2 separate regions of the Homo sapiens genome follow, and region 2 is linked to region 1. The links come from fine-mapping of genetic effects on gene expression. A gene starts in region 1. The other region holds a variant in brackets. All regions are shown on one strand. Distances are between the middles of the regions.

Region 1 (5,383 bases):
GAGACCAAATAGGTTACTGCAGAAATTCATGGTGGACAGGACCTCGGAATAGCAATGACAACAGTCAGATCCTGGATGTATTTTCAGAGTAGAACTGACAAGATTTACTGAAAGATCTTACATGAGACATGAAAGAGACAAGTCAAGAAAACTTCAAGGTTTTTGACCTGAACAACTAAAAGGACGGAACTGCCATTAACTGATATGGAGTAGACTGAGTTCAGATGGGACGGCCAGACTAGGGATATAAACCTGGGAATCATCAACATACAGATAATACTGAAAGCTAAGGCGCTAGATGAGAACACTAATGGGACCCTGCAATGTTGAGAAGCTGGGAAGATGTGCAAGAACCTGTAACGAAGACGCATTCAATGAAGAACAACAGTAACACGGAGCAGGAGGCAACTGATTCTACCTATTGAACTGAAGGTATGGATAGAGGGGACAGTGAACCAGGAAGAAAGGAGATGGCTTGTGGGATGACCTTCAAAAGATCAATAAAGATTTTTCAGGAGACCAATAAAGATTTTTCAGGCAGGCAAAGCAAGAAACAGGCACGTTAGTTTACCTCTATCTTACTTTCCTCACCTGTAAAATGGAGATAATACATAATCACCTAATGCAATGCCTAACAATAGTAAATGCTCAATAAATGCCAACTATTATCTCATCCACCCAAATATTCTAGTATCTAGAATATTTAAGGACTGTGAGTTATCTCCCAAAACATTCTCCATAGGCATGAGGGAAATAGCTAATTCTGCATTATAATATATATACAAGGATTTACCTTCCTCTGAAAATAAGGCAGAATTCAATGACAGTAAAAATTTGATAAAAAATAGATCTAGCACTACCTAGTAATTCTGTAAAATCTTACTATGTTTATTTCTGCAGAAATACAAACGATTAGATTTTAATGATCTACAAAATTTCTGCATACAAGTTTACGGCCACGCAAATTTATTTTTCAAAAAGCTCTCTTGTATTGGTACAGTTTTACTGACACGTTATTTTAATATGTAGTATAGTCATCAGAAACACAGTATTAAAACAAATGGAGCTTCCATTTGTTTAAACATATACAACGAATGGCAGGTATGCCCCAAATCTTATTTGAACTTCCCTATATTTAGTTATGCCTGACTTCACCTGATAGGTTATACTAAATTATTTACTGGGAAAAGCAGAACGCAACTCAGTATCTTTTGTGTGTCATTACTAAATTGAAGTCTATCACTTTTTCTTTAAATGCCAAAGGAAGGAATCAAGTACAGCCCAAATCCCTTCTGTAGGTCATATGAATTATAAATTTATTTTCCTATTCATATTTATATCCAACAGAGCATAATTTCAGGAAACAGAATTCCAAGTATGCACATTCTTGATGCCTTATTTCTATTAGCTCCTCAGAATAAATTGCTTGAAAACTTTTAAGACAACTAGTTAACAAGTATAAACCTTTAGTTTGTAGCTAACAGGTATAAACCAAGTTGTCATGAGAAGTTTTCAAGTAAGGCAAAACTAATTTCTAAGACGGAAAAAAACCCAAAACTCAAGAGAAGAATATGTGCCTTTTTACATTTCTCTGCATAAATAGAAGCTATATAAACATGCTCTATTGAAGATAAAATATTATTTTAAAACAATGTGTCAAACAATTAAAATGAGAAAGCTATTAATTCATTTGTTTTGCCATTCTTCAATGCCTTCCAGCAAGCTGAAGGAGAAAATGTTTATCACCAGGCATTTTTCTGCAGGTACCCCCAAAAGACTGGTCCGAAGTAGAGAAGTGGCGCAAAGCAAGCCGCTGTGAAAATACCTAAATTCTCTGAGTGTCAGAAAATGGGAGTTCTCTTAAAAATCAAAACCAGGAGAACTGAACCACGCACAGAAACTCGGAGACCTCATAGGTGGCAACATAGATAAGAAGCTATCAGCTGCTAGATCTTGTTGTGATGGCCTTCTGATGCCCACTAGGAAGGAGACAAGAGCAGGGCCGTAGCAATCCGCCCACCGCTGAAGCTCCTTCTCCTGCACCACAGGAGGAACCGAGTCCTCAAGCTAATGGCAACTTCTCCCCAAAAACTCAAAGGGGAGGGGCTCTTGATGTTCTAGGGACTGGATTAAACTCCTGGAGATCGGTCTCTGAGCTGCACGCACCAGAGGAGAAGGATGTCGTCGGGGCAGTCACGAAGCTTCAAGGAGAAGAGAATAAGTCAGTACCTGTCTGCCTTTCCCGAATACTGGCTGCTGCTGCTGCTGTCGCTGCCGCCGCCGCCGCCATCTTGGCTCCCACGAGCCACTGCCCGGCTGGGGAGCGGAGCGGGGGGATGACGTGGCTGCCCTTACCGCCCCGGAAGCAAAGCCCGGAAGGGCGGGGCCAAAGGGTGTGCCTGAGTTCCGGACCCCACCTCCTCCAGGAAGACCTCCACTCTCGGTAGAACTGGGAGACCCGGTGCAGGTTAATTCAGTGGCCCGTAATGTTAGGCGAATACTAAGAGTTTTTATCCTACCGAATCAAGCCACACTCTCTCAAATGGTAGCAACATTAAATTGAGCTGTTAGGGTAGGAGCGTGTAGTGCTAAGAACCTAATTACTGAACTGTTGGTTTGGTGACTTACAGAGCACTTAAAGGGTGATAATGCTCTAGGAGTATAAGGACCACAGGACTGAAGTAAATGAAGCTCCTGAAACACAGGCAACATTTTAACGTTAGCTCTCGTTTCTCAGTGCAGCAGGAGTCTTCCCTTTGCTCCTTTCTCCAGAGAAACGGAAAGCATTGGAGCATTACTCTGATCTGGCATATTTCTCAGTCGCATCTCTTTAAAAAAAAAGGTGTAGCTTTATGGTGGCGTTCTGCCGGCATGGACACGGGATCCAGGGAGGTACAAAATGAGAAATTAGCATTTCTCCTCTTTCCTTGTAGTAATTGCAAAATCACCTTGCCGTGGGAAGGAAGTCAAGCAGTAGTGGGGTGTGTTGCCTAGGCTGGAGCGCGCAATCAGGGATCACTGCAGCCTCAAATTCTGACGGTCAAACGATCCTCCTGCTTCAGTCTCCCAAGTAGCTAGGGACTACAGGGGCACACCATCAGGCCAGGCTGATGTGCTGGTTTTTGTTGTTGTTTTGTTTTTGAGATAGTATCTCACTGTCTGTCGCTCAGGCTGGAGTGCAGTGGCAGAATCTCGGCTCACTGTAGTCTCGACCTCCCGGACTCAAGCGATCCTCCCAAACTATCCTTCCACCTCAGACTGCCCACTAGTTGGGACTATAGGCAGGGGTCACCACGCCCGGCTAAATTTTTTTTTTTTTTTTTTGTAGAGACGGGGATTCACCATGTTGGCCAGGCTGGTCTTGTGCTGGCGGTTTAATGTACACTTGAAGCCACGTGACCGCAAAATATATGGGATAGATGATTTCTAACTTAATCCATAGATTTTACTGTATGACCAAAATGGATACACAATGACACCTCATTTCCCGAGTTCATTGATGACGCTTCATTATGAAGTTGCACCAAATTCTGAAATGAAATCACTCTGTACCTCAAAAGCTTAACTTTCACAATTATATAAATGAAATGGTTAGCCTAACGATTATATATTGTTTTATAGTGTGAAACACTGGCTTTTTTCATTAATAAAAATTTATTTTTGTGACATTTAAAACAGGTTATCTTATTACATAATCTCTGCCGGGTGCGGTGGCTCACGCCTGTAATCCCAGCACTTTGGGAGGTAGAGGTGGGCAGATCACCTGACGTCAGTAGTTCGAGACCAGCCTGGCCAACATGGTGAAACCCGGTCTCTACTAAAAATACAAAATTAGCCGGGTGTGGTGGTGGGCGCCTTTAATCCCAGCTACTGGGGAGGCTGAGGCAGGAAGAACTGCTTGAACCTGGGAGGCGGAGGATGCAGTGAGCAGAGATCGCGCCACTGCACTCCAGCCTGGGTGACTGAGTGAGATTCTGTCTCAAAAAAGAAAAAAAAATTATGTAATCTCATTTTTATAGCTAATTGGCACATTCATTAAGAAATTAACTGGAATACATGTGTGTCTTCAGTACTATTACTAATATTTTGAAGGAATCTTCAATGATCTAGGTGTGTTCCAACTAAACAAATTATTTCTGCCCTATGGGAAAGTTCTACTGCATTCTACAGTCTCTATGAAATATAAAATGTCTGAGAGCCCAATTTTGCTCATTTGGGTACTTCCACTTTCAAATGCAAATCCATCATTGAGCCACTTCAGTTCCATCACAGATTCTCTCCCAAGACTATGAGTCATGTTAAAACCACGAAGACAATTTTAAAATTGATGTACACTGCATATATATGAAATGATAAAAACTCCTGACCAAGTGCACAGAATGTGGGCAATAAATTTATAGAAAAATACACCTCACAGAAGAACAGCAACCATAGACAAATAGCCCTTGTAAGGCTGAGACTGAATAAGGTATTTGTTTTATTAGAATCAGAAAGACTGAAAATAATCTATGGCTACAGATTGTTCATTAACCTAATTTACTATAGCCATTTATCTGAGTCCAGATTTTTGGCTTAAATAATTTATTCTGGTAAGCTATTTTACATTAGAGGATACATAGTTTTAACACAGATTCCCTCATTTCTATAGGTTCCTGGGTGTCAGACACTAACTGCTTGCTTATAGGATCTCTCAAATGTGGAGAGTAAAGGAATCTTGTATCTTTCAGTTTCGTCAGAATCTTAATCTTATTAAATCCCAAAAAATTACTTAGTTTAAATAGGCAGTTTACCTTTAGTGGCATAAACACATTTATTTATTTATAAAACATTGTTATAAATGTCACGCTTTTTGGTTAATCTGGCAGTCTTTAAAAGGGGGGGAAATAGGCTGACATATAAACGATCACCTAGCATAATACCTGGCATAGTGTAGGTACTGGGATATGTTTATGAATTAGAAGAGATAATGGTCAAAATCAGAACTTGAAAACTGAGTCTCTTCAAGACAATCCAAATTTTCCTAAACCACAGATAATATACATTCAAGTAATTCATCATTAAATGGGTTATGTTTTGTATTGCATTACTTGAAGCATGAAACTTTGTATTGCATTACTTGAACCATAAAAACTAGTTTAATAGCTTATTTTAAAGTAACAATGCAGTACATGATAATCACTATATAAAAGAATTACATGTTTATAATGTAATGATTTTGTTCTGATCATTTTCTTATAATGACTGAATGCTAAAGGCACAGTCACTGAAAAAACTTACCTAATATACTCCCCTTGACTTAGTATTTAGCACTGAATACAAAAGTTCCAATAGCTTCCATATAATTAGGGGAAAAATTTACAAATGCATAAAATAGAAACCAAGG
Region 2 (5,383 bases), 110 kb before region 1:
AGGGATGCCCTCTCTCACCTCTCCTATTCAACATAGTGTTGGAAGTTCTGGCCAGGGCAATCAGGCAGGAGAAAGAAATACAGGGTATTCAATTAGGAAAAGAGGAAGTCAAATTGTCCCTGTTTGCAGATGACATGATTGTATATCTAGAAAACCCCATTATCTCAGCCCAAAATCTCCTTAAGCAGATAAGCAACTTCAGCAAAGTCTCAGGATACAAAAATCAATGTGCAAAAATCACAAGCATTCCCAAACATCAATAATAGACAAACAGAGAGCCAAATCATGAGTGAACTCCCATTCACAATTGCTTCAAAGAGAATAAAATACCTAGGAATCCAACTTACAAGGGATGTGAAGGACCTCTTCAAGGAGAACTACAAACCACTGCTCAACGAAGTAAAAGAGGACACAAACAAATGGAAGAACATTCCATGCCCATGGATAGGAAGAATCAATTATCCTGAAAATGGCCATACTGCCCAAGGTAATTTATAGATTCAATGCCATCCCCATCAAGCTACCAATGACTTTCTTCACAGAATTGGAAAAAACTACTTTAAAGTTCATATGGAACCAAAAAAGAGCCTGCATTGCCAAGTCAATCCTAAGCAAAAAGAACAAAGCTGGAGGCATCACACTACCTGACTTCAAACTATACTACAAGGCTACAGTAACCAAAACAGCATGGTACTGGTACCAAAACAGAGATATAGACCAGTGGAACAGAACAGAGCCCTCAGATATAATACCACACATCTACAACCATCTGATCTTTGACAAACCTGACAAAAACAAGAAATGGGGAATGGGTTCCCTATTTAATAAATGGTGCTGGGAAAACTGGCTAGCCATATGTAGAAAGCTGAAACTGGATCCCTTCCTTACACCCTATACAAAAATTAATTCAAGATGGATTAAAGACTTAAATGTTAGACCTAAAACCATAAAAACCCTAGAAGAAAACCTAGGCAATACCATTCAGGACATAGACATGGGCAAGGACTTCATGTCTAAAACACCAAAAGCAATGGCAACAAAAGCCAAAATTGACAAATGGGATCTAACTAAACTAAGGAGCTTCTGCACAGCAAAAGAAACTACCATCAGAGTGAACAGGCAACCTAAAGAATGGGAGAAAATTTTTGCAATCTACTCATCTGACAAAGGGCTAATATCCAGAATCTACAAAGAACTCAACTTTACAAGAAAAAAGCAACCCCATCAAAAAGTGGGCGAAGGATATGAACAGATACTTCTAAAAAGAAGACATTTATGCAGCCAACAGACACATGAAAAAGTGCTCATCATCACTGGCCATCAGAGAAATGCAAATCAAAACCACAATGAGATACATCTCACACCAGTTAGAATGGCAATCATTAAAAAGTCAGGGAACAACAGGTGCTGGAGAGGATGTGGAGAAATAGGAACACTTTTACACTGTTGGTGGGACTGTAAACTAGTTCAACCATTGGGGAAGACAGTGTGGCGATTCCTCAAGGATGTAGAACTAGAAATACCATTTGACCCAGCCATCCCATTACTGGGTATATACCCAAAGGATTATAAATCATGCTGCTATAAAGACACATGCACAGGTATGTTTATTGCGGCACTATTCACAACAGCAAAGACTTGGAACCAACCCAAATGTCCATCAATGATAGACTGGATTAAGAAAATGTGGCACATATACACCATGGAATACTATGCAGCCATAAAAAAGGATGAGTTCATGTCATTTGTAGGGACATAGATGAAGCTGGAAACCATCATTCCCAGCAAACTATAGCAAGAACAAAAAACCAAACACTGCATGTTCTCACTCATAGGTGGGAAATGAACAATGAGAACACTTGGACACAGGAAGGGGAACATCACACACCGGGACCTGTAGTGGGGTAAGGGAAGCGGGGAGAGAAAGCATTAGGAGATATACCTAACGTAAACGATGAGTTAATGGGCGCAGCACACCAACATGGCACATTTATACACATGTAACAAACCTGCACGTTGTGCACACGCACCCTAGAACTTAAAAAAAAAAAATGCCTTTCGTAACAGCATAAAAATATACTCTGAAGACTACAAAATATTATTGAAAGAAATTAAAGATATAAAAGGAAAACATCCCCTATTCATGGACCAGAAGCCTTAATTAACATTAAGATGAAAATACTCCCCAAACTGATCCAGAGATTTAACACAGTCTTTGTAGACATTTGCAAATTCTAAAATTCATAAAAAATTGCAAAAGACCCAGAAAAGCCTAAACAATAAAGTAGGACTCACATGTGTCCTGATTTCAAAAACATACTAAGGAAGCCATGATGATCAACACAGTGTAATACTGGTGCAAGAAAAGACCTATAGATCCAAATAATGGAATTGAGAGTTCAGAAATAAACCCATACACATCAAGTGATTTTCAACAAGGTTGCCAAAAAACCATTACATGGGGGAAAGAATAGTCTTTTCAACAGATGGCAGTGGAACAACTGGATATGCAAAAAGATGAAACTGGATCTTCATACCATATTTTAAAATTATACAATTCTTAGAGGAAAACTCAGGGTCAAATCTTTATGACCTTAGATTTGGCAAAGGATTCTTAGATATGCCACGAAAAGCCCAGGCAACAAAAGAAAAAAAGAGATACACTGGACTTCGCCGAAATAAACTTTTGCACTTTAAAAGACACCATCACAAAAAGAGAAAAGACAACCCAGAGAATGGGGGAAAAAATCTGGAAATCATGTATCTGATACGGGATTTGTATCAATATTACATAAAGAATTCTTACAACTCAATCATAAAAAGGCAAAATAACCCAATTAAAAATGGACAAATGGACAAAGGGGCCAGGCGTGGTGGTTCAAGCCTGTAATCCCAACACTCTGGGAGGCCAAGGTGGATGATGGTGGTGTGCACCTGTAATCCCAGTTACTTGGGAGGCTGAGGCAGGAGAATCGCTTGAACCCTGGAGGCAGAGGCTGCAGTGAGCCAAAATTGCGCCACTGCACTCCAGCCTGGGTGACAGAACGAGACTCCGTCTCGGGGG[G/A]AAAAAAAAAAAAAAAAAAGGGACAAAGGATCTAAACAGACATTTCTCCAAAGATATACAAATGGCCAATACACATGTGAAAAGATTCTTGACTTCGTAAGTCATCAGGAAAATATAGATAACAAAGCAAGTGTTAGTAATGAAGTGGAGAAGTGAGAACCCTCATGCACTGCTGGGGGGAATGTAAAATGGTGCAGCTGCTTTGGAAAACAGTCTGTAGTTCTTCAAATGATTACAGTTACTAAGTGACGCAACAATTCCACTCTTAGGTATATACCTAAAAGAAGTGAAAACATACATTCACACAGAATTATGGTGGCCATTATCTATGGTTCCACGTGGACAGCAACAGGTCTTGTCTAGAATACACACTCATTTGGATGTGTATACCTGTTAGCTGCAGGAATCACCTTTAACATTATTAGAGGCCGCAGCAGAAACAATTTCAATTTAGACCTCCTACTTATATATCATTTGATAAAGAAACTCACTTTACTGCAGGTGCAGTTCAACAATGTGCTAACAACCATTATCTACCACAGACTAACTTATATACCTTACCAAACACAAAGTATTGGAGCAAATGTTTGAAACACTTTTCAAAGTGGTAATGAGAGACAGAGTTGCATGATGGAATGTGTGTCAAAACATAAAAGGCATGAAATTAAAGGGGGACTCAACACTAAACAGATTATAGAGATACTTCAGGAAAAATAAGGGAGGGGTGGAGTAATAACACAGGAACTGATAACAATTTCCTCCATATTTCTGAACATTTTTCTTTTTCTCTGACTGATCATGTAGAACATGGATATGGATTACATTTACAAGCTCAGGAAGACGGATCAGTTGCAAACATGACATGAAGATAATACCTCTAAATATAACTGTCTGAGGAATGATGGAATGGACTGTTTTTATTTTCACCTATCTAAGCTTGGAATTAATGTTTTTTTTTCATCTTTCCTCACATGTGGACAAGACAGTCCTATAAACTTGTAGTTATCCACCTCAACATCATGTGACTGGGAATGGACAAAGGGGAAAAGCACTGGCCAGTCTCACATTGCTGTCAGCTCCACAGGTAAGTCCTCTTGCCGAATGTGATGGTCTCCTAACTCAGGGATCAAGGTCTGGGTAAAAAACTAACAACAGGAGAAAGGAGGAAAAGTCTTTACTCTCAGAAAGGGAGCCAATAAATGAATAATGCAAAAAAGAAAGGTAACATTATTTTGGTATCTCGTAAGAGCCTGGGAGCAAGAGAATGCTCTTAGCTATATTTACAGATGCCCATAAGACCTGATGAAATTGTCTCCTTTATTTGAAGCTGTCTAAGATGGGTTGCAGGAGATTTAATAATTTAATCTGTAGAATTTTGTCTGAATCTTGATGATGCTAATAACAACATCTTGAGGATAAACACAGAATAATTCTAATGCTTGCCTTTTGGCTCCCATTGGTTTTATCTATTGTAGAGAACCACTTTTGGGAGGCAAAATTAGGACACGTTGTCTCTGAAATGCACACAAACGATTTTGTTGAACAACGAAGTCACAGACCACCACGTAACTATTAAACGCAGTTATGATTTGTTAAGAAAGGTGTCCAGAAACACAGACATAAAATAACTGCTGCATTTCCAACTACTCATAGTAACATGTGCTCTAATGCCTATGTACCTTGTTTCTGTGGGCGGAAGGCACTAAGGTTAAAAAAATTCTTAGTACTGAAACCAAGTAAAGGATAACTAGGTGGGCTTACACACTTATAGCCCTGATCTTTTGCTGAGAATAATTACTACTCATAAGACACTGTCTCGGGGAACTGAAAACTTTTGTCTTCCCTCGCCCGCCATCTCTCAAAAGGTTCCTGAAAGATTTTGGATCCAAAAGGTATATTCAAACTATATTCAAGCAATAAAAACTCAATGGCAACAACTTATTTAATGGTTAAACCAATTTGGGCAGAAACACTGGCACAGTTCTATGAGTCCTATGGTAAGCCCGATTTGCCTTTAATGAAAAGAGACATACTGAGCAAGACGACTTAATGACCTACTGGTTGTTGACAAGAAATGTTATTTCAGGAGGAAGGGAAATGGTGGCAAGCAGCCTGGAAAAATGATAAAACAAACTCAACAGTTACATAAAGATGGGAAGACACATGTACCCAGACTCAAGAAGGATTAAGTACGCTCCTCAATTAAAAGCCAAGGTAGTGCAAGGAAAATGGCCTGGTATCTTGGCAGAGCGAGCAAAAAGAATGAATTTATGGGAAACTTATGGTGCCTCAGTCAATTACAACATTTTGGTATATAAG

The links. PIP is the estimated chance that this variant, and not a neighbour inherited with it, causes the effect.
Region 2: its variant is fine-mapped to the expression of SCFD1 in whole blood (INTERVAL, PIP above 0.99).

Annotation. Positions count from the first base shown.
Region 1 is chr14:30,619,246-30,624,628 of GRCh38, reverse strand. It overlaps SCFD1 (sec1 family domain containing 1), which reads right to left and starts at 2,310. Exons shown (of 25, transcript NM_016106.4): 1 at 2,230-2,310. The coding sequence starts at 2,290. G2E3 (G2/M-phase specific E3 ubiquitin protein ligase) reads right to left here. Exons shown (of 15, transcript NM_017769.5): 15 at 4,565-5,383. RefSeq lists enhancers at 2,028-2,707, 1,777-2,976.
Region 2 is chr14:30,726,539-30,731,921 of GRCh38, reverse strand. The region is part of intron 23 of SCFD1 (sec1 family domain containing 1); the gene reads right to left. Among named protein-coding and RNA genes, the nearest start is that of SCFD1, 110 kb to the right of the region's middle. The variant G/A (reference allele first, on the strand shown) is at 3,065.